Linked DNA regions of Homo sapiens: regions 1, 3, 4, 5, 6 and 7 are each reported to be linked to region 2. Evidence: microRNA targets listed by miRTarBase, many of them from high-throughput screens and not tested one by one. Region 2 holds a microRNA gene; each other region holds the end of a gene's coding sequence.

What was found. Region 2 holds the annotated microRNA hsa-miR-4747-5p (AGGGAAGGAGGCUUGGUCUUAG, at 2,131-2,152, opposite strand). A microRNA usually pairs through its seed, bases 2 to 8, with sites in the 3' UTR of a target mRNA and lowers its output. Matches are read on the target gene's strand: a 7mer-m8 pairs with bases 2 to 8, a 7mer-A1 pairs with bases 2 to 7 and ends in A, and an 8mer does both.
Region 1: the mRNA of GSN is a reported target of hsa-miR-4747-5p. Seed matches in the 3' UTR shown: 7mer-m8 at 315-321.
Region 3: miRTarBase lists SYCE1L as a target of hsa-miR-4747-5p. Seed matches in the 3' UTR shown: 7mer-m8 at 2,616-2,622.
Region 4: the mRNA of MYH2 is a reported target of hsa-miR-4747-5p. The part of its 3' UTR that is shown has no 7-base or 8-base seed match.
Region 5: miRTarBase lists DDX11 as a target of hsa-miR-4747-5p. Seed matches in the 3' UTR shown: 7mer-m8 at 1,991-1,997.
Region 6: miRTarBase lists RREB1 as a target of hsa-miR-4747-5p. Seed matches in the 3' UTR shown: 7mer-A1 at 1,804-1,810, 7mer-m8 at 1,231-1,237, 7mer-m8 at 1,196-1,202 and 7mer-m8 at 539-545.
Region 7: the mRNA of SNX19 is a reported target of hsa-miR-4747-5p. Seed matches in the 3' UTR shown: 7mer-A1 at 267-273, 7mer-m8 at 2,067-2,073 and 7mer-m8 at 2,956-2,962.

What each region holds. Positions count from the first base shown.
Region 1 is chr9:121,332,339-121,335,432 of GRCh38, forward strand. It overlaps GSN (gelsolin), which reads left to right. Exons shown (of 18, transcript NM_198252.3): 18 at 96-504. The coding sequence ends at 265. Among named protein-coding and RNA genes, the nearest start is that of STOM, 36 kb to the right of the region's middle.
Region 2 is chr19:4,931,839-4,934,838 of GRCh38, reverse strand. MIR4747 (microRNA 4747) reads right to left here and starts at 2,152; the gene lies at 2,099-2,152. UHRF1 (ubiquitin like with PHD and ring finger domains 1) reads right to left here. Exons shown (of 17, transcript NM_001048201.3): 5 at 1,883-2,098.
Region 3 is chr16:77,212,485-77,215,578 of GRCh38, reverse strand. SYCE1L (synaptonemal complex central element protein 1 like) reads right to left here. Exons shown (of 11, transcript NM_001129979.3): 10 at 2,933-3,005; 11 at 2,364-2,722. The coding sequence ends at 2,648. Among named protein-coding and RNA genes, the nearest start is that of SYCE1L, 15 kb to the right of the region's middle. RefSeq lists silencers at 2,419-2,468, 2,499-2,588, 2,699-3,028, 3,089-3,094 and an enhancer at 2,368-3,094.
Region 4 is chr17:10,518,632-10,521,725 of GRCh38, reverse strand. MYH2 (myosin heavy chain 2) reads left to right here. Exons shown (of 40, transcript NM_017534.6): 40 at 294-578. The coding sequence ends at 446. All of the region lies in intron 2 of MYHAS (myosin heavy chain gene cluster antisense RNA), which reads right to left. Among named protein-coding and RNA genes, the nearest start is that of MYH1, 1.6 kb to the right of the region's middle.
Region 5 is chr12:31,103,238-31,106,331 of GRCh38, reverse strand. It overlaps DDX11 (DEAD/H-box helicase 11), which reads right to left. Exons shown (of 27, transcript NM_030653.4): 25 at 2,937-3,015; 26 at 2,601-2,755; 27 at 1,533-2,525. The coding sequence ends at 2,496. Among named protein-coding and RNA genes, the nearest start is that of DDX11, 31 kb to the right of the region's middle. RefSeq lists an enhancer at 1,798-2,297.
Region 6 is chr6:7,248,747-7,251,833 of GRCh38, reverse strand. It overlaps RREB1 (ras responsive element binding protein 1), which reads right to left. Exons shown (of 13, transcript NM_001003699.4): 13 at 1-3,087. The coding sequence ends at 2,866. Among named protein-coding and RNA genes, the nearest start is that of SSR1, 63 kb to the left of the region's middle.
Region 7 is chr11:130,875,577-130,878,670 of GRCh38, reverse strand. It overlaps SNX19 (sorting nexin 19), which reads left to right. Exons shown (of 11, transcript NM_014758.3): 11 at 117-3,094. The coding sequence ends at 249. Among named protein-coding and RNA genes, the nearest start is that of LINC02551, 15 kb to the right of the region's middle.

The DNA.
Region 1 (3,094 bases), not on the chromosome of region 2:
CTTCTTTGTCAACTCCTGTCCTGAGTCACCCTCTCCCTGGTGTGGGAGGCACTAAGAATTCCTGGGGTTTCCTTTTCTTGCACGTGTGTCTGCAGCTAAGCGGTACATCGAGACGGACCCAGCCAATCGGGATCGGCGGACGCCCATCACCGTGGTGAAGCAAGGCTTTGAGCCTCCCTCCTTTGTGGGCTGGTTCCTTGGCTGGGATGATGATTACTGGTCTGTGGACCCCTTGGACAGGGCCATGGCTGAGCTGGCTGCCTGAGGAGGGGCAGGGCCCACCCATGTCACCGGTCAGTGCCTTTTGGAACTGTCCTTCCCTCAAAGAGGCCTTAGAGCGAGCAGAGCAGCTCTGCTATGAGTGTGTGTGTGTGTGTGTGTTGTTTCTTTTTTTTTTTTTTACAGTATCCAAAAATAGCCCTGCAAAAATTCAGAGTCCTTGCAAAATTGTCTAAAATGTCAGTGTTTGGGAAATTAAATCCAATAAAAACATTTTGAAGTGTGTACTCTAGTGTGGCTCGTTTCCTTGTGCCCATCTGACAGTGAGAGCCGGCGTCTTCTCTGCCTGTGTCCCTGGTAATTCTGAGAATGGCCAGAGAGGTGCCTAGCATTTGCCTGTAAACTAGTAGAAAGGCTACATCCACCCTGTGCGTGAATCCTGGTGCCCTGAGAGGCGATGCCACAGTGAGTTGAGAGGTGTGTAGATTGTCCTGGGGGATACCTATGCTAAAGGAAATAAGGAGGGGCCGGGTACGGTGGCTCACACATGTAATCCCGACACTTTGGGAGACCGAGGCAGGCAGATCACCTGAGATCAGGAGTTCGAGACCAGCCTGGCCAACATGGTGAAAGCCTGCCTCTACTAAAAATAAAAAATTAGCCAGGCGTGGTGGCACATGCCTGTAATCCCACCTACTCGGGAGGCTGAGACAGGAGAATCTCTTGAACCCAGGAGGCGGATGTTGCAGTGAGCTGAGATTGCACCATTGCACTCCAGCCTGGGTGACAGAGCGAGATTCTGTCTCAAAAGAAAGGAAATAGGTGGGGAACCAAGGAAGACTGGGAGAGCCATCAGACCCTCGACGCAAGTCTGACCCTAGGTGGAGAAAAAAGGGAGAGAAGGTTGTGCGGAAGTGTCTTAGTGGTCATTTATTTAATCCAGGAAGATTTGGCAAAGCTTGTCGGCAGTCCCAAAGCCAAATTCAGTGTTCTTTTTAAATTTAATGGTATAGTCCCATTTTTGTTGTTTTTTATTGTGGCAAACTGTACGTAACACAGTATTTATTTTAACCACTTGTATGTATTTCAGTAACATTGCATATACAGTGTTATGTAGCCATCACCACTCTCTGTACCCAAAACTTTTTGATAATCCCCAATATAAATGCTCTGCCCATTAAATACCAATTCCCCATTCTTCCCTATTCGCCAGCCCCTGGTAACCTGTATTTTACTTTCAGTCTCAGAATTTGACTATTCCAGGGACCTCATATAAGTGGAATCATACAACATTTGTCCTCTGTGTGTGGCTTATTTCACTTAGCAGAATGTTTTCAAGACTCATCTGTGTTGTAGCATATATCAACTTTTCACTCCTTTTTGTGGCTGAGTAATATTCTACTGCATGTCTATACCACATCTGGTTTATTCAGCCATCAATGGACTCTTTGTTATTTGTGCCTTTTGGCTATTGTGCATAAGGCTGCTATGAACATGAGCATCTGTTCAATTCAAAGTGTTCTTGAGCCAGAGTCAAAGTCAGCCAGCAAAGGAATTGTGTGTCTCTTGTAAGCAGGCGTGCCTTATCTGCCCCCTGCACTCAGTCTTTGGGAGGCCTGGCCTTGGGACACATGTGGGATGAAGTTCAAAGCCAGCAGTCGGAGCCCTTATCAATTATATGCCCTGCAGTAGAAAGCGGGCAGGGTGCATCCTCATAGCTGCCACATCCTGTAGCAGCTGCTTGGACCTTCCCTGCTGCCTCTGTTTCCCACAGATTCATTCTGCTGCCCCAAAGCTATGTGGAGAAATAACTGCAGCAGCTGCCAGCACAAGAGCTGCCCCCGGATGCTCTCAAAGTTTGCGGTCTTCAGGGTATGGGAAAGGGACTCTTCTGTGCCTTCTTGGTCCCCTGGGTCCTGACTCTCCACTCATGCTCAGCATGTCACACAGTCCCTCTTGGATATTTCTATGTTGTTTCATAATCTTTTCTCCTGGGAGACTAAACCAGTCCAAGAAACCTGCTGGAGGACATTCCCCAGTCCTCCCGCTCTGTCCTTTTGGTCTCTTCTCACCTTGTTTTCCCCCCGTCTTGTTCTGTGTCACCTCCCACCACCACTCCATCCCCATTGAGTTATGATGTGAAAGCTCGCAAGCATATGACTGTAAAAGAACAGAAACCAGCATGAGGGCTTAAATGATGGGCAGGCTGTGTGTTTGTGTGTGTGTGTGTGTGTGTGTGTGTGTGTGTGTGTGTGTGTGTGTTTACACTGTTGTCTCCAAAGCTGGCTGATCACCCAAATTGCCCAGGGAACTTTTTAAAAGCATGGATTCCCCAAGGGCCATTCCTCCAGAGATTCTGATTCATCGCAGAAGTGTCGAGGGTAGTGGAGAAGAAATTTTCTGGATGAAACGTGGAGGGAAGATGAAGTCACTTTCAGGCAGAGGGTGCAGCTAGTACAGGCAGGGGGCTGTGAGGGGAACAGCGTGCTCAGGGACAGACAGCAGCCTGGAGTGGCAGGCCTCTGAGCTGAGAAGCAGGCTGGGGCTTTGAATGCCATACCAAGGGTTTGGACTTGATCCCATAACGCTTGCCTTGCCTACCCCCAAAGGTTTGCTTTCATGGTCAAAGCAATCAACTTGACAAAGTCCTGGTACAGAAGTGGCATTTACCACCCAAAGCTTCTAGGGCTTTCACGAGAGGCAGGTAGAGGCCTGTCTAGACAGAGCTAGCTTACTTCCTAGAAATTAGTGGGAGGTAAAATTTCAGGTAGACCTGCCCATTAATTCTTCATTTCAGTTTATACCAGCATTCAAGGGTATGGCTGTGGCCTCAAAAGAGAGTTGTGCAATGCTCTGAGAAAGAAAATAGCCTGGG
Region 2 (3,000 bases):
CAGTGAGGAGGCTCCCACAGCCCCAGCCACTCCCCTCCATCACCCGCAGCTCACTGACCTCCCTACCGGGCCACAGATGCACCATAAATGTCCCAGCCCAGGACCTCTGCGTGCTTGCTGTACCTGTACTTGGAACGCCGTTGCCAAGATGCTCGTGTTTATAGACAACACGTCACGTACTATCACTCGGCCACAAAAAGGAGGGAAATTCCGACCAGGCTACAGCCTGATGCACCTCAAGGACATCACACTCAGTGACGTCAGTGAACAGATGCAAAGGACAAATCCTGTGTGATCCCATTCCTAGGAGGTCCCCCGAGTTGTCAGATTCACAGAGATGGAAAGTAGGATGCAGAGGTGTCAGGGGCTAGGGAGTGAGTGTTTCATGGAGTCAGAGTTTCAGTTTGGGAAGAGGACAAAGTGCTGGAGATGGTTGCGTAACAACGTAAATGCGTTTAATGCCACCGAACTGTGCGCTTAAACATGGTTCCAATGGTAAATTTTTGGCCGGGCGCAGTGGCTCATGCCTGTAATCCCAGCACTGTGGGAGGCTGAGGCGGGCGAATCACTTGAGGTCAGGAGTTCGAGACCAGCCTGGCCAACATGGTGAAACCCAGACTCTACTAAATATATATATATATACAAAAATTAGCCAGACGTGGTGGCGGGCGCCTGTAATCCCAACTACTTGGGAGGCTGAGGCAGGAGAATCACCTGAACCTGGAAGGCGGAGGCTGCAGTGAGCCAAGATCATGCCACTATACCCCAGCCTGGGCGACAGAGGGAGACTCTGTCTTTTAAAAAAAAAAAAAAGGTAAATTTTCTGTTACATACATTTTATCACACACACACACACACACACACACGCACACACACACACAAAGAGGCAAGGGAGAAAGAACAGGCTTTGCAAAATGATTCTGCAAATGGCCAAATAGGAAGGATTTTCAGCTTTGTAGGCCGCATAGTCTCTGTTGCAACTACACAACTCTGCTCTTATAACACAAAAGCAACCACAGGTAATAAGATAAAAATGGGTGTGACCACGTCCCAATAAAACTATTAGTCAAAGCCGGCAGCGGACCACAGCAGGCCTGTGGACTGCAGTTTGCCAACTCCTAAGCGGTGTGGTTTGGCGTGTATGTTTATGAACAGAATGTCCCTGGAAAGTTGGTAACAGTGATGTCGCCAAAAAGGGGAACTGGGTGACCAGGCAGAGGAGGGAGAACCTTCATGTGTGGTCTTGGGTGCTTTCTATTTTGACCCTGTGAATGGGACCTATTCACCAAATTTGAAACAAACAAGAGAGAAAAAGAAAGCTTGAGGCCAGGCACGGTGGCTCACTGCCTGCAATCCCAGCACTTTGGGAGGCCGAGGCAGGCAGATCACGAGGTCAGGAGATCGAGACCATCCTGGTTAACGGTGAAACCCCGTCTCTACTAAAAATACAAAAAAATTAGCCAGGTGTGGTGGTAGACGCCTGTAGTCCCAGCTACTCGGGAGGCTGAGGCAGGAGAATGGCATGAACCCAGGAGGCAGAGCTTGCAGTGAACCGAGATCGAACCACTGCACTCCAGCCTGGGCAACAGAGCGATAAAAAAAACACCATGAGAAAAAGGAAGTTTGACAACTCTGCCTGTCAGGGCCTGGGGGTCAGAGACAGTTCCCTGGGCAGAGGCACTCAGGGGCACAAGGTGGTCGGTCTTAGAAAGATGCTCAGCAGTGAGCAGGAACAGACCCCAGAGGGGAGGCAGGAAGGCCAGGCCGGAGGCTAAGGGCCTCGCACACACAGCGCTGGCTGGACGGCTTCAAAGCCAGTCCGGGGGCCCCGGGAGGGGAGGAAAGGAGAGAGGAAGGGCTCGCCCCAGGACGCGAGGCTCACCCCAGCACCACGTTGGCGTAGAGTTCCCGCGCCGTCCTGGTCTCGCGCTTCCTGGAGATCTCCGCGTCGTACCAGAAGCCCCGCTCCTTGGGGTTGTCGGGGTTGTAGTTGAGCATGACCACCTGGCCCACCTCCAGGTCCTGCCACTTGATGATGGTGCGGGCGCGCGCTCGGACGTCCCTGGAGTTCATCTGGACCACGCCGTTCTCCGGGTAGCTGGGAGGAAAGCCCGGGCCTTAGACCCCGTGCTAAGACCAAGCCTCCTTCCCTCAATGGGAAACGAGCCGAGGTGGGACGGCCCCTCCCGACAGTGTGCAGAGGCCCCTCCCAACAGGCTTATATGCTGGTGTTGAGAACACACAGGTATATTAAGGCACATTCCAGGTACAAAATTGTTATGGGTTGCCCGTGTCCCCTGCAAAAAGAGATGTTCAAAGGCTGATCCCCAGTACCCACGAATAGGATTGTTTTTGGAAACAGGGTCTTTGTAGATAGAACCTTTGCAGATGAAATCATATTAAGATGAGATCACACTGCAGTAGGGTGGGCCCCAATCCAACAGGACTGGTGTCTTTAGAACAAGAGGAGAGGCCGGGCAAGGTGGCCCACGCCTGTAATCCCAGCACTTTGGGAGGCCGAAGCGGGAAGATCACCTGAGGTCAGGAGTTCAAGACCAGCCTGACCAACACGGTGAAACCCTGCCTCTACTAAAAATACAAAAATTAGCCAGGCATGGCCGGGCACGGTGGCTCATGCCTGTAATCCCAGCACTTTGGGAGGCTGAGGCAGGCAGATCATCTGAGGTCGGAAGTTGGAGACCAGCCAACATGGAGAAACCCCATCTCTACTAAAAATACAAAATTAGCCAGGCGTGGTGGCGCATGCCTGTAATCCCAGCTACTCGGGAGGCTGAGGCAGAATTGCTTGAACCCGGGAGGCAGAGGTTGCGGTGAGCCGAGATCGCGCCATTGACGCCAGCCTGGGCAACAAGAGTGAAACTCTGTCTCAAAAACAAAACAAAAACAAAAATTAGCTGGGCGCAGTGGTGCACGCCTGTAGTCCCAGCCACTTGGGAGGCTGAGGCAGGAGAATCGTTTGAACCCGGGAGATGGAGGGTG
Region 3 (3,094 bases), not on the chromosome of region 2:
TTTGGCCACTCTCTCTTCCATGCCTTGTCTAGCTTGCTACTCAGGATGTGCTATGTTTGCATCTCTTCGGGCCCCTCCTCTGACTCCTCTGTTTTTCAGTGGGTTTCTTTCTGGCTTACTTTTTTCAAGAATGTCCTGGCCGGGTGCGGTTGCTCACGCCTGTAATCCCAGCATTCTGGGAGGCCGAGGCGGGCGGATCACGAGGGCAGGAGATCGAGACCATCCTGGATAACACGGTAAAACCCCGTCTCTACTAAAAATACAGAAAAACATTAGCCGGGTGTGGTAGCGGGCACCTGTAGTCCCAGCTACTCTGGAGGCTGAGGCAGGACAATGGCGTGAACCTGGGAGCCGGAGCTTGCAGTGAGCCGAGATGGCGCCACTGCACTCCAGCCTGGGCGACAGAGCGAGACTCCGTCTCAAAAATAAATAAATAAATAAATAAAAATAATAATAATAATAAAAAGAATGTCCTTCCGCCTTTTGGCAACACTGAGCTCCCCCAGGCTCATTCACATTTGAACCTGAACTACAAGCCAAGAAGCTTGAGAATTATGGTAATTGAATGCAAGCCCTGAGAAAAGCTGTTACAGGAAGTGAGTGAAGACTTCCCAGGCAGCTGTCAATTATTTCAATGAAAGGAGAAGTAGCCCTGCCAGGAAGGTCAGTTGAGTCAGGAGAACACAGGGCAAATCAAAAGCCAAAGTCTCGCTCTGTCGCCCAGGCTGGAGTGTAGTGGCGCCATCTTGGCTCACTGCAACCTCCGCCTTCCGGGTTCAAGCAATTCTCTGCCACAGCCTCCTGAGTAGCTAGGATTCCAGACACCTGCCACCACCAAACCAAGGGGTGTCACCATCTTGGCAAGGCTGGTCTTGAACTCCTGACCTCGTGATCCACCCGCCTCAGCCTCCCAGAGTGCTGGGATTACAGGCGTGAGCCACAGCACCCAGCTGGTCACTGCGTTTTAGAGACATTAAGCAATTTGCCTGAGGTCATCCAGCTGGTGAACAGGGAAACCAGGACTCGAATCCTAGGTGCCCAGTGGTAAATCGGCAGAATATCCAGGCTGACCCCATTTGTGTGACACAGAGAGGATGACAAAGAGGATACTGAAGTTCCTTAGAGATTCCTGGAGACTGGCCTTAGCAAGTAGGTGGTGTCAGTGGGGCAGGGGACCACAGCCTGGGCCTGGAGTCAGCTCTGCCCGGATGCGAGTGGTGACTCGGGGACTAAAGCTCCCTGGGCCTCATCTGTGGACTTGGGATAATAATGGCAACAAACGTGAGACCCAACGTTTATTGAGGGCTTACTGTACAGATTCACTATCTCAATTTTCCTCATCGCTAAATTGGGAATAACAGCAAGAATAGCAGTGAGAATAATAAATGATAGATACCATTTATTGAGCATTTATGTTATAAAAATCTCTGTTCTGAGAGATATACACACCTTAGTGTTCCTCATCTGTAGCCTGGGAATAATAATAATAAATCATATGAACCACTTACTGATCACTTAATGGACAGAAGCCTCTGATCTAAGTGAGTCACACATCTCAGTTCCCATTCTCTAGGGACTGGGAATAGTGAATCATCCCAACAATATGTGAGAGCTGGCATTCACTGAATACTGACTGTGTGCCAGGTCCTCTTCTACACACATTAGATAGTGTCCAACTTGACTGGTCCTTGGCAACTCTCCAGTGTCGTCTCCCATCCCACTCTACCTCATTCCACTCTACCACGCCGGCCTTCTCCAGACGTCTCCTCAAACACAGCGAAGTGCAGCCTCACCTCCCGCCTTGGCATGAGGCATGTCTTCTGCCAGGCCCACCTTTCCCCAGACACCCACAGGGCTCACCCCCTCGCTTCTCTACCTCGCTTCTCCGCTCAGATACCACTTCCTAGGTGAGGCCGTCGCTGACCGCGCTGTTTAAAATCCAGTGCTTAGAACAGTGCCTGGTACCCAGCAGGCAATCGGCAAATGCCTGCTTAGTCAGTACATGCTCAGTCAATGGCCGCAGCCTGCTGCTGGGTGCCTTTGGATTTGGGTCCCAAATGCCGGCCTCCAGAGTGGCGGACACATTTAACAGATCTGAGGTTGCCTGGGGGATGTGACCCCAGAGAAGGACCAGTAGGGCGAAGGCCCCGAGGGGACACGTGTTTTGGAATGTTTGAGACGGGTGGAGAGGCAGCCTTGGCTAGAACCCAATTTGTGAGGGGAGCTCAGATGGGCGGGCATGTCCCAGAGCCAGCGCGAGTCTGCGGGTCTTGCAGAGACTCTGGGTTTCCTGAGACCACCGGAGACGCACAGGCCCCGAGGACCGGAATGGGTTAACACCTGCCCTCCGGCCCCTGTTGACAACATAGATGGTTTGGGAACTCGAGATGAGGCCGTGGGGCGGGGGATACTGACACCCACTTACTCTCTCTGAGTTCAGGAGCATTTACCCAGCCTCTGTACGGCGCCCGGGGCTCGACTGGTGGGAGGGGTCCGGCAGAGGCCCCGCCTCGAGATCCCAGCACGCCCCGCCCCGCTCCACGGTGTAGCACAGACTCCGCGGAGAACGCGAGCATGGTCGGAAATCATCGCCTTTATTTCTTGGCGGGTCTCGAGGGAAGGTCGGGAACGGGCGGGTCCTGCTGGCCTAGAGGGCGTCAGGGGCAGCCACCGGCGGCTCGGGATCCTCCTCGTCGCGAGCGCGGGGGAGCTCAGGTCCGGCCTGCCGGGGGCTGGGTGAGGCTGCGGACCAGGTTCCTACGCTCCTCGCGTCCGCCCGCGTCTGCCCTAGGCCTCCACCGCGGCTTCCTCTGTCCCCGGGGCCGCCCTGCTCCCCACAGACCCCACTCTCGGGGGCCGCTCCCAGGACCCCCGCCCGCTCTCTCCTGACTCGGTCCCTGCCCGCCCCGCCTCCCTTCCTCGGGCTCCCTACCTCTCCCTCGCCGGCCCCGACCTCGGGGGCGCTCCGGACCTGCTCCCCGAATATCTCCAGCTCCGCCTTCAGCCTGCGGAGAAGGGGCCGAGGAGACAGGAGGAAGAGAGCGAGAGTCCAGGGGACGAGGAGGAAGCCACCGAGACGCGGAGACCCGACGAC
Region 4 (3,094 bases), not on the chromosome of region 2:
TAATATTCTTGCCTTCCTCTCTAAGCTTATATTTTTCTTCTTATTCTACTTGTGGTACATATATTTTATGTGTTTTGGTTGCCAAAATAGGAATGTGAGATACGTATGTATGTATGTGTGTGTGTATATATATATATATATATATGACATCAATAAACAAATCTTAAAATTAATTTCAATGATAATCCCTAGATGTTGCTTCTCCATAGATGCCAAGTCCTTTCTTCTATTAGGTCTAAAGAGTCTAGAAAGATGCAAGTATGAGTTCCTTACAATTCCATTTTTATTCTCAGGAGGAACAATCCAACACCAATCTAGCTAAATTCCGCAAGCTCCAGCATGAGCTGGAGGAGGCCGAGGAACGGGCTGACATTGCTGAGTCCCAGGTGAACAAACTGCGGGTGAAGAGCCGGGAGGTTCACACAAAAGTCATAAGTGAAGAGTGATCATGTCCTGATGCCATGGAATGACTGAAGACAGGCACAAAATGTGACATCTTTGGTCATTTCCCTCTGTAATTATTGTGTATTCTACCCTGTTGCAAAGGAAATAAAGCATAGGGTAGTTTGCAAACAATATCCTTAGACTGGTCTTGTCTTTTCTCTTTCCTGAAGCCATGTCAAAGTTTGAATAGTCACCAGAGTTGTCAAACAATCACATTCAATTGGTGACTTTTTTGGGGGTCTACGGCAACACTTTAAGGCTGTAAAGATGTCACTTATCCAGAAAGACTGTTCTAATGAACAGAAATTTGGAAGTCTATTTTATTTCTTTCTAACCTTTCCTGATATCTGAGTACAGTAAAATCTTAGAAAGCTCCTGCTTCCCCTAACATGAACCTTTTTCAGGATAGTACTAGCTATATTCTCACATAGGGGATTCAAACTGAATTGTATCATTAATTCTCTTTGTTGAATAACTGTTATCAAGAATATAAATACAAAATATTCTTAATTAGCCCATGGATATTTACATTATCAATTCCAATGTACCATATGCCCACAGTAGGTGCACTGGGTAATGGGTTTGACACGACCTTGTTCTTCACGAAGCAAGTTTCAAAATTAAATTAAATATGACTCTTCTCCCTATGAAAACTACAGGGTGTCTATCAAATCTGGAGACATAGAGAATATTATTTTTACGTTATAATGTAGTATCCATGAGCTATTAGCTTATGTTTCCAATCTTTATGGTCTCCCAGATAATCATATAAAGAGCCAAAATAAATGACTAAAAGTGTCAAGAAAATATGATCTCAAAGTAGGTTATTCAAATCTATATTCAACACACATAATGATGGGTATGAGTTTGGTACAAAAAGTAGATATCATAGCAATCTGGACCACTCAGAGACGTTTTCCTAGAGGATCAAGATTTTTAAACTGGATGCAGCTGAGATGCATAGCCAAAAATATAACCTTCCTCGACAGAATAAAGGAAGAGCTAAATGGTAACTTCCCATCAAATAGAAAGCAAGAGTATCTTGGTCTAAATGGCACTGTGTGAAAATGATGTAAATTAGACATGGTAGTTTAACAGGTAAGTTGGATTCACACTGTCGCACTGGCCTTAGAAAGGGTGTGGAATTGCTCTTCTCGCTGCATAAGCCCCTCTTTCACTTTGTTCCTGTATCACGTGGAATTGCTTAAGTGCTTTATAACGTGGCAGTAATAAACAAAAACAATATCTTACTTCCTACTTATTGAAAAGTTTATCCAGAGCAAGACAAAAGGTTGTCTGAAGATTCCCATCAGATCCTATTGAGAGCATTATTAAAATGTTTTATCTTCCTGAAAATCATTACCCACATTTTGCAGGTGCCTAGTAAAGAAACAGACATGTAAGAAAGTAAAATTAGGTACCTGTGGTAACAAAGCAGGCTAATAGATGGCTAGGAAAGGCCCTCTCAGACGCACATCCCTGCAATACCCTTCCTGATGGCTTTAATCTACCCCAGGTAGAAGAGTGTCACAAGTGAGTACGCTGGACCGCAAGTCAGATGACCAGAGTCTAAACTGCTGTGTGATTTGTGGAGATTCTCTTCTATTTTTTGGATCTCAGTTGCTTTATTAGTAAAATGAGAAAGATGAATTAGATGATCCCTTATGGTAATAAAACTATGTGACCTTTACAACTAGTATATCCAGATATCTCCTTTCATAAGGCAAGCTATAGCCATTAAATCAATTGAGATATAAGTACAATAATACAGATGTGGGTGCAAAACCAGGTATATTAAGCAAATGTTGTCCCAGTCCTAGCCAGACAATGCTGACAGACAGAGACGTGAGGCCACAAAGACAGTAAAATAAACTTTTTTAAAAAATTAAAATAGAAAACAATATTCAGGTATTGTTTGTAAGCAAAATACTAAATATATCCCATGGACTGCTGATAGAGGAAAAATCATCGATGCTGCATATTTAGACAGAGAAATACCCTGTTTCCAATATTTTCTTATGTTGAGTTTCATAGAGGAAACAAGATTTCACAAGCAACTTGGGCACCAAAAAAAAATGAGAGAAGCAGGACATCTCTGTTTGGAAGGCAATGCAATTTCGGAGCAAGTCCGAAGTGCCGGTGGAATGATTTGACAATGAATAAGAGGCGACTGATTGAAGGAAACAAAAGAAGCTATCTTTGGCTGCTCTTCATGAAGCAAGTTTCAAAATTAAATTTCCAAGCAACTTTGAAAAAGCACAATAAATTGCAAAAAAAAAAAAAAAAAAAAAAAGGAAATCTTTTTGAGAGAAAGCAACGTTTTTATAACCCTCTGCTAAAGAGCAGAAGTTTTCCTCCCGAGTACACTATCTGTAACTGCGCAGGCAGTTGAAAAGACTTCACACAGGCGACTCTGTGAAACAGAAGAGCAGTAGGCAACAAAGTCCAGGGATTCCAGAACTTAGCTGTCTTTGAAACAACACCTTACATTCCAAAGGCCAACAACTTTAAGATTGCCAACGACTCAAATTATTTATAGGAGATTGATTCATATACTTAACCCAATATGAGAGGAAATATTTCTAATTATATCCAAACATCTTTAATATGAGGGGAATTAGGCTTGGAGACCTTCAATGCCAAAAACATG
Region 5 (3,094 bases), not on the chromosome of region 2:
GGAGAGGGAGGGGCAGGTGCAAGGGCTGGGGGCCCTGCCAGGCTCCTCTCTAGGAGAGGCTCTATTGAATCCCTTATGCCACCACAGCTGTGCAGGGTGCACATGAGGTCTCGCTAGCTGCTCCTGCAGGTCCCTGTCACCTCTCACATGTCCCCACCTAATCCCATGGGTCCCAGAGAACTACTTCTACATGCCAGACCTGGGCCAAGTCCCCCAAGGTCGATGTGCCATCCTACCTGACCTGCCTGGCAGACCTCAAGTATGGTGCCAGCCTGGGCCCCAGCATCACCCACTCTGCCCTGGCACCAGGCTCAAGTCGCTCAAGCCCAGTGAGCTGGGTGTTAGGATGGCAGCCAGGCTCCCTGCTCAGTCACCTCCTTCCCTAGGCACCCCACACTTTCTCCCATTTCCACTTCCTACCTATAAGATGGCACGTTAACAGCACCCCAACCTCCCCCAGCTGCTGCGGTGCTGGTCAGTGCACCCTCATCCCCACCCCAGGCCCCGGCCACTGCAGTCCAAGGCGCCGGGCAGGACGACAGCAGCAGCATCCCCTTCAGGAGGGAGCTCTCTGAGGCCACCTCAGTCTCATTTCTGGATCCCTGGCGGATTTTCTGTGGGGTTGTTAGCTGGTCAGAAATCCCTTATTTTTTTTAATAGTTGTCATTTCTTGTTCTACTTGGCTCATAAAATAGTGGTTTTCAAATTGTAGCTCCCTGGAATTCTCACCTCTACGGTAGAGGGAGCCTGGACAAGGGTGGCCCTGGGGCCCCCATTCCTAAACCAAGGAGAAAAAAGGGTCTAATAACAAAAACACTACAGGGGACAGGAACACGGAGCCGGGGGTCAAATGTGACTGAACCCCACACCCCACTCCGTGGCTTTCCTATTGCAGTGAGAGCCGTAAGCCAAGGCAGGGAACTGATGTGGGATCTCTTCAACAAGCTGGTCCTGAGACGCAAGGGTAGGAGGCAGGGCCGCTGTCTGCCATGGGCTGTGGCATCGTTAATTCTCTCTTGCCTTTTTCTTCCTGTGTTTAAGTCTCTGGGGCCTGGGGAAACCAGTGCTCCCCACAGACCTCCCTCACTCACCCTTTCCCCTCCAGCCTTTTCACCTCTGGGGCTGGTGAGGGGCCGGGAGGAGAGAGCCCGTATGTCAGACAACAAACCGTCTCTGCTAACCCCCAGCAGCCACAGGCAGAGGAAGAAGAGGACAACTGGAAATCCTAGCGGGCGCCGCCATGCCTTCCTCCCCTAAACCCAGACTCTAGCCATGGCCCGGACGTGGACACAGCCAGAATGGGATCCTCAGCCCTGCTGCCCTGGAAGGGGCGGGGATGAAACTGTCCCAGGTCTGTGTGGAGACCACCTTCGGGGAGCGGGAGGCTGGCTTGAGGCCACGCAGCTGGGGTGGGGGCTTCCGTCTGCCTGTGCTCCATCGGAGGATGGCTCCACCCAGCCCCTGCACCAGTGCGCTCCTCGATTCCCTAAAGAGGCTTCCAGAGAAAACAGCAGCACATATCAATAAAAAACTCAGCAGAAACCAACAGCACACTTTTATTTAAGGACCTATAGCTGTGCAGGATGCAAACATCTGGGCATCAGTGACTTTCCTCCTGCCCCCGTTTGTCCCTGATGGTGGCAGAAGATCCCAGCTGACCACAGCCCCTTTCTCTGGGGTCAGAGGGAGAAGACAGGCGCAGTCAGCAGGGGCAGCTGTTGCAGGTGGGAGGGATATTTTCCCACAGGAACAAAGGTCTCCGTGATGACACGGGGTCTCTATAGTCATGTTGAGAGCCTAACGGCCCTTGGCATAATTGCTGGTGTTGGGGTAGAAGGTGTCTTGGAGTTTGCTCAAGTGGTTGAGAGGGAGGGAGGTGCCATAGACTTGGAGGAACTGGCACGAAGCCAAGGATACAAATCCAGGCAGGGCTGTGGGACAGGATAGGGAGCAGGGCCTTCTACTGAAGGAGTGACTCAGGAAGGAGGAGGGGAAGGTGACAAGCCCCTGGGCAGGAGCCCTGTGGCCATGGATCATTTTAAATTGAGACCAGAGAGTGAGCAGTCCAGGGCAGCTATAACCTTGGCTAGAAAGGGCAGAGGCAGATGGGCCTGCTCCATCTCGCCTCTTAAGAAGGTGGGCAGGACGGAGATGCCACAGTGGATGCCACAGCTGCCACAGCCTCCTGCGGAGACCAGGAAGGAAGCCTGGCTCTCAGCCATGCAGGATGGAAAGAAAGATTCTATTCCAGGAGGGGAGCTGCCCTGGAACGCCCCAAGGACAGCCAGGACCCACTGTTCATTCAGGATTCCCCCATTTTCTCCTACGGGAGCTAACGCCTGTGCCTGGGTCCTGGCAGCACTCTGGACTCCACACTCTCCTCCTGGGTTTCACCTTTGTAACAGGATCCCCGCAGACCACGCCCACGACAAACACTGTCTCCAGCGGGCAGGACAAAGGAAGGGCACGGCGCCAGGCAGTGGTGTGGTTGCCCATCAGGAAGAGGCCGACTTCTCCCGGTGAAACTGGGCAGACAGAAGGCAGTGAGAAATGTGATCTCGGGGTGGGGAGGCTCTCAGAAAGAAAAAGGTAGGACTGACCTTCTGCACAGCAGCAATGGCGGGGCCAAAGGTAGCTTTGACCTCCACACGGGCTCGGATCCAGGCCGGCAGCTTGGCCAGGACAGGGGGCCGGGCATATCGCTGGTCCAGGAGCACTACGCTGGCAAAATCCTTCTGGTGCCTGATGGCCCTGCCTGCATAGGAACAGAGGCTGGGGCTCCGAGCAACACCTGCCTCCCCCCTACAGCACATTCCCACGGCGACCCCCTCCCCTTCCTCAGACTTATATAGGAAACAGGGCAGGCAACCCCTCTTTCCTGTTCTCCCTTTCTCCAGCCCCCATCTGTCCACCCAGCTGGAGGCAGCCAGGCTCACCTATGGACTGGTTGACGGCCTTCATGCACAGGTTCTCCACCAGAGCCTTCCCTGGGGGTGCCTGGCCGGGGGCTCTGGGCTGGGAGTGAAGGGGAAGACCCATCAGGACTGTTCCCTGCCTGCAGCTCCCCCTGGGAAAAGACCCTGCCAGGCTTTGG
Region 6 (3,087 bases), not on the chromosome of region 2:
GCATAAACCAGTTTTGTACATAACATGTAGCAGCAGTTTTTAAGTTCCCTTTAGAAAAATATGAATTCTACAAATTTATTATTGTTTCCTGTTTAATGCATGGGCTGAAATCACTAGGATCAATTTCCTTCTTGAAGAAAGAGGAGAGGAAAGAGACGAACAGAGGGTCAGAACGCATGGTGAATCTTCCAAAACTGGCATCCGACTGTTACGTAGCTTCCCCAGCGCTGCTTGGAACACAGCCCTCTGGGTTGTTTTGTTTTCACAGCCAGGTGTTTCATGTAGTGATTGAATCTCAGCATCATGTCCATTAATCAATGAGAAAAAAAAAAAAAAAAAAAAAAGAGAAAAAACTTGCACCTCAAAAAACTTTTCAGAAGATCCATATATATATATTTTTTTGTAAAAGCCCTGAGAGAAGGAGAAAGAGAATCAAACAAAATGTATAGAAACAAATTAGCTGGACATGCAAACTAAGCTATGATTCACCCAGAGTTTAAACAAATCACAAATTTCACAGTTTAATATTGGGGGGTGGGGGAAGGGCAAAAACAACAAACAAATAATACGTTTCTCCACCTCACTAATAAAATGTGGCAAGACCTTATTGACTACGAGGGTACAGATCAAGGCTAAGTAAAGCTTTAAATCAATAGTGATTATTGCGAGCGGCAGCCCCAGCTACACACGTCGCTGGGAGCTGATTACTGCTACATCTCACCGCAGCGTAGAGTTTAGTCACAGCTTCTCCCCACAATATTGCAAGTTTAGTGTGGAGAGTCGCAAAGAAAAAACACAAGAAACCCCAAATAATAATAACAACAAAAACAACAATAACAACTGTAATAATAATAATAATAATAATAAAAACCCTAAGGGATGTATGAACTGGTTTTAACTAAGTAGGCCAAGGGATCATTGGTTCTGATTTGCATTCATCTCTACAGTAAATAAAACCTCGTTTTTAAACTGGTTCATACACCCCTAATACAGTTAAAAATCATATATACCTCAACCTTTTTTCCTTTCGTATGCGAAGATATCACTTTTCATTATCTCAAGAATATCTATCTTCCTGTGAAGTCTGGGAGGTTGGATTTCAGAAACTGGTGAAGTGGCGGAGAAAAGGGGGCGTGCACGTTTCTGTGTGAACAAGTCTATGTAAAGGAGGAGCACTGGGGCCAGAAAAGGCCAGGGGAAGGAAGCTGGGGTACAGGGGTGCCTCCCCAGGGGAAGGCAAGAGGCTCCATACACTGCAGCAAGCACAGGGGTCCCCAGCAGCAGGCTGGCTGGGGACCCCTGAGGTCTTGGCTGAGGGACCAGGAGCTCAGGTGCAGTGGGGTACATTCTCCTCCCTGCAGGCGGAGACAGTGAGGGAAGTCTATTGCCTGCACAGGATGCTCATGGGTAAAAATAACCCTGCCTTTTTGCATCCAGGGGTGTGGGCTATTTAAGAAACTAGAAACAGCACATTTATCTTCAAGCACCAACCCCACATCGCAGGAAGGTAAATATAAACCTATTTCTTATCTGACATCTTGCATGTGTAGTTTTATTACCAGTAGTAGTATTTCCTTGCTTTGCAAATGACAGTAGCACAGCTGGGTAAGGCTTGGATTAGGCTTAGCAGGAAGACTGGGAATACCTCGCTCACGAGTAATGTGCCTGGTCACTGGGTCACTGCTTTGCTTTCTCCAAAGTCATCTCTGCAGTGCTCCAGGCACGGCCCTGGCTTCTTGATGCCTGTTCCCTGGATGCATGCATCCTCACTCCACCCTCTCTGAGCTGCTCCTGGACCATGCTTGGGAAGACTGCTCACGGCCCCTTCTAAATTCTGCAGTGACAGAAGAAAGGCTTGTCTCATTACAGTAGAAGAGCTACCACCCGAGGGTGCCAACCACAACCGCAGGCACACGTTAACACGGGGACCTGGGTGCGGCACAGGTCTCCCAGGACAAATATTGCCCATTTGATTCTGCTCACTGCAGAGAACAGCAAACTGATGAACTAATAATAATAATAATAATAATAATATTAATAATACATATACTGAAAGGGAAGAGGAGGCAATCAAATATATCCTATCCGTGCATGTTTTCCATAGGTTAAGACGCCAGGGGAGTAACTCTTCTCTATAGTTAAGAATGGATGTCTTGAAACTTGAACAGTGACCATGTCTAATGCTGACAGACTGGAAATGGACATGAGGCTGAAGCTAGAATCTTCCCTGGTTTTGGCCTGAAACCATATTGGAAACCTTCATCAACCACATCCTGTAATACCAAGGACCAGATGACAGCTCCACCATGAAGCACAAAGAAAAAAGGAAAATGTCTATTTAAGAAATTATCATCTTATCCATCTTTCCTCTGGTCATTTACATGAAATTCACATCATTTTCTTCCAGTTATTGGCTATGGGTACCCAAGGGTATGTTTTTTCCTTCTGTTTCCAGCTCACAGAACAAACGGTGCTATCACAGATTCACAAGAACAAGCTCACACACACCAATACAAAATAACGCTAATGCTCAAATGAAGAGGTCCTCTCCAGACAATTCATTATAATATTTGTTTTGTTTAAGAAGTCATTTTGGAAAAATACAACACCCATGATAATATGGAGGGATCCGGTAAGTAGTTAAGGCACTGGAATCGGCACGGGCTGTGGCCTCCCGCGCAGGCTGCGGTAAGGCTATGGCACTGAGCGAGCAGCCACGCTCCTGCTTGTCTCTCTCTCTCTCTCTCTCTCTCTCTCTCTCTCTCTCTCTCACTCCTCAACAGCCAAAGGGCACTGAGGAAACCCCATGAAGTATAGACGCTTTGCTCTGCTGGCTTTTGTCTGTGCTGAGGGGGACTGAGGCTGTCACTCCATCCCCACGAGCTGGGAGGCGCCATCAGCTGTGGCCAGGATTGGGTGGGCAGGCCTCTTGCTGCGCGGCTCCAGCAGGTCCTGCCCCAGGGCCGCCGGGCTCTCTGGGTTAAGGTCACCCTGGCCAGGCTCAGACGGCCACCCTGCCGTGACCTTCTCCTCCCTGTGGCTGCAGTCCTTGGTGGCACTGGCCAAGCCCTCCTTCCGGCTCCGGGT
Region 7 (3,094 bases), not on the chromosome of region 2:
TCAAGCTATTGAAGTTTAGGGTGTCGGTGATGGGGGAGGAGAAAATAAATGTCATAAACAGGATCTTGTGTTTCCTGATTGAGCCAGACCCTAAGTTTTTTGTCCATTCGTTTCAGGCATTTGATTTACTGCCTTGGGGACATCATCCTGGAATTCTTGGATCTCAGTGCCTCTGTTGAGGAGTCTGCTGCTACCACCTCTGCCTCAGATACCCCAGGCAACTCTAAGAGGATGGGTGTCTCCTCTTAGCTGGTTATTCACGCCTTCTTCCCAGGTCAGGGAAGTAGAGTTACTCGGCCACCAGAGACCAGTCAGGAAGCCCGTGCCCTCTTCAAGTAGGCTACAGCTAAGAAGGCCTAGGTTCTCGGTGGCTCACTTCTCTCCCACTTCTGCTCCATTTGTAGCAGGTGACAGGGGTCTGTGTGTCCCAGTTGTATGCACGTTTATTTCCCTGTTCCTTTTGTGATGTTGGGATTGTTGCTGGTGAGTAGATCCTGTTTCCTTTGGGAAAAGAAGCTGTGAGGTAGAGGAATGAACCCCTTTTGCTTCTCCTTTTGCCATCCTCCCTGAGATTGTTTGCCAGAATCCTGGCCCTGTGCACACATGTGCTTAATCCACCAGCACACAAGCTCTAGATAGAACAGGAAAAAAACTGTGGCCAGATTTCCTTGGAGGAGAAAACAACCTTCTCAGCTCTCTGTTCCTACCCGGAAACTAAAAATTCATTCAGGGCCATTCTCAAAAACCAGACTCCTGGGTCTAATCTAGTTTCCCAACAGTTCCAGAAGAAGAAGGAGGGAAGAAAATTTTTCAAGGAACTTCTTGCTCATGTGTTGCTGTTTCCCAACACATCAGCCTTATGGAAGATGTCATGAGGCTGCTTGCCTGGGAGGCTACACTTTCCTTTCCAGAAGACTTCAAAGCTGACTGCCAAAGCTTCTGGTAAATCCACCCCACCCTTCACACCCTTTCCTGAAAGGCATTTATACCACCCATTTTATTTATTGGCTTTGCTCCCAACCCCCTGCCCTAGAGCAATTGAGTTTTTGAATTTTTGACCCTCTCTCTGTCTTCAGCAAAACTGCATGACAAGCTGCATATTCAGCCTCAGTTTTTCCAAGGAGAATGGAAAGCACTTGCCTCCTGTCTTAAGAATGCACAAAGAGTAGGACTAGCAAGGCTGGGGGATGAAATCTCCCTTCCTAAGTCTTTGACAGAGAACTTTTATTATTCTGAACAGATAAGATTAGCAAACTTACAAGGAATAGCTTCTTATTTCCCATTCCTTACGGTTATAATCAGTCCTTTAACAACACCAGCATGAAGGCAAAGGTGTTTTGTCAGACTGCAACATCTATTAGAAAGGCAAGGCAACTGGGAATTGCTGGAGAAGGATAAATCAGGAGGAATTGCTGGTAGAAAAGGCTGCAGACAGTCACAGGGAAGTGCTGTATATTAAATGCATGTGAATAGCTGGCAAAAAGATGTCAAGGATGTCACTGGGAGCCCTTTGGCTTCACACTCGCCTGTTAGCGCCTTGCTTTCGCTGAATTACCAGAGCCTACCACTCGGAGGAAGGTCTTGGAGTTAGACTGATGAGAAGGCAATGGGGTGTCAAAAACAAGTGTCAAAGTTCTCTTAGATTCTGAAGTCGGTGATGAGCACACAATTAAAGTGGTTTGTGGAAGAAAGTTGTAAAATCTTTTTACTTTTTTGCCCCTCTGGAGGCTTTTAACCCTAAATTGTGTCTGATGTATTCGGGAGGCTTAGGTGTGCAATTCTTGCCCAAAGGCAAGGAGATGAATGAGATGTCTCATGGCCTCTTCTAGCCTTAAAAGTTGACCATTACAGTGACTTTATGGCTCCAAAGTTCTTGAAGCATCTCCAGCCCTAGACTTTGACAAGAAAAGGTAGCTCAGCATCTCTACTTTCCGTGAGTACCTGCAGGAGTCCAGCCAATGTATTAGAGCTGATCATTAAGCTCCTTCAGTGAGGGCTAAGATCCTATTCTCGATGAGCATAGGGGGACAGCCTTGTTTTATGCCACTTTTCTCTCCCCATACCTACCTTCCCCTCATGTGTACTTAGCCACCTGTGTTGCTTTGAATCTGCTGCCAGTTCTGGCTCAAATGTGGCACAAAATCAGTACATCAGACACACCATGAAATCCCTGTGGCTATAAATTCTAAGGAATCTTTTGACACTTCCAGCCCAAAGAACTTATTTTTATTTCGTATTATATAAGAGTCCCCACCTCTACTCCACGTACCCCAAAAAGATAAGCTGTCCTCAGATCCTCCTTCTACCCAGGAGGGAAATAATGGATATTGCCAAGGGAACAATCAGAACTCATCTGGCTTTGAAAACGACCTGCCAAGTTTGGCTAGCAGGTTCAGACAACAAGAGAGTAACAATTGGTAGAGAGCCACAGGTAGAAAAGATACTCCCAGCTGACAGGGTGATAAAAGGCAGGGAAGAATTGGGCCTGTGCTGATCCAGGAAGGTTTTATTGTTTGCTTGTTTTTTGTATTTACTCGTGACTAAATTTTATTCATTTAAGTCAGAATTTTGATATTTGAAATAAGACTACTTTCCCTTTTCTTACTATCTATAAAAAAGACGAGGCAGGGATGCTGTGTTCTTTCTGTCAAATTCTAAATGTGATCTTTGCCATTGCTTATTTGAATTCAAGAAAGCTATACTTTTTCATCACATATAACTCACAGTTTCATTTTTGCATTGTTGGATTAGACTTAATAAAACCTAAATGGAAAATAAATTCCTAAATCTGAGCCTAGGAGCATGTATAAATTTTATTTTTATTATTATTATACATTAAGTTCTAGGGAACATGTGCACAACATGCAGGTTTGTTGCATATGTATACATGTGCCGTGTTGGTGTGCTGCACCCGTTAACTCGTCATTTACATTAGGTATATCTCCTGATGCTATCCCTTCCCCCTCCCCCGACCTCACAACAGGCCCCAGTGTGTGATGTTCACCTTCCTGTGTCCAAGTGTTCTCATTGTTCAATTCCCACCTATGAGTGAGAGCATGTATAAATTTTAAAATCAATACAAGCTACTCCAATT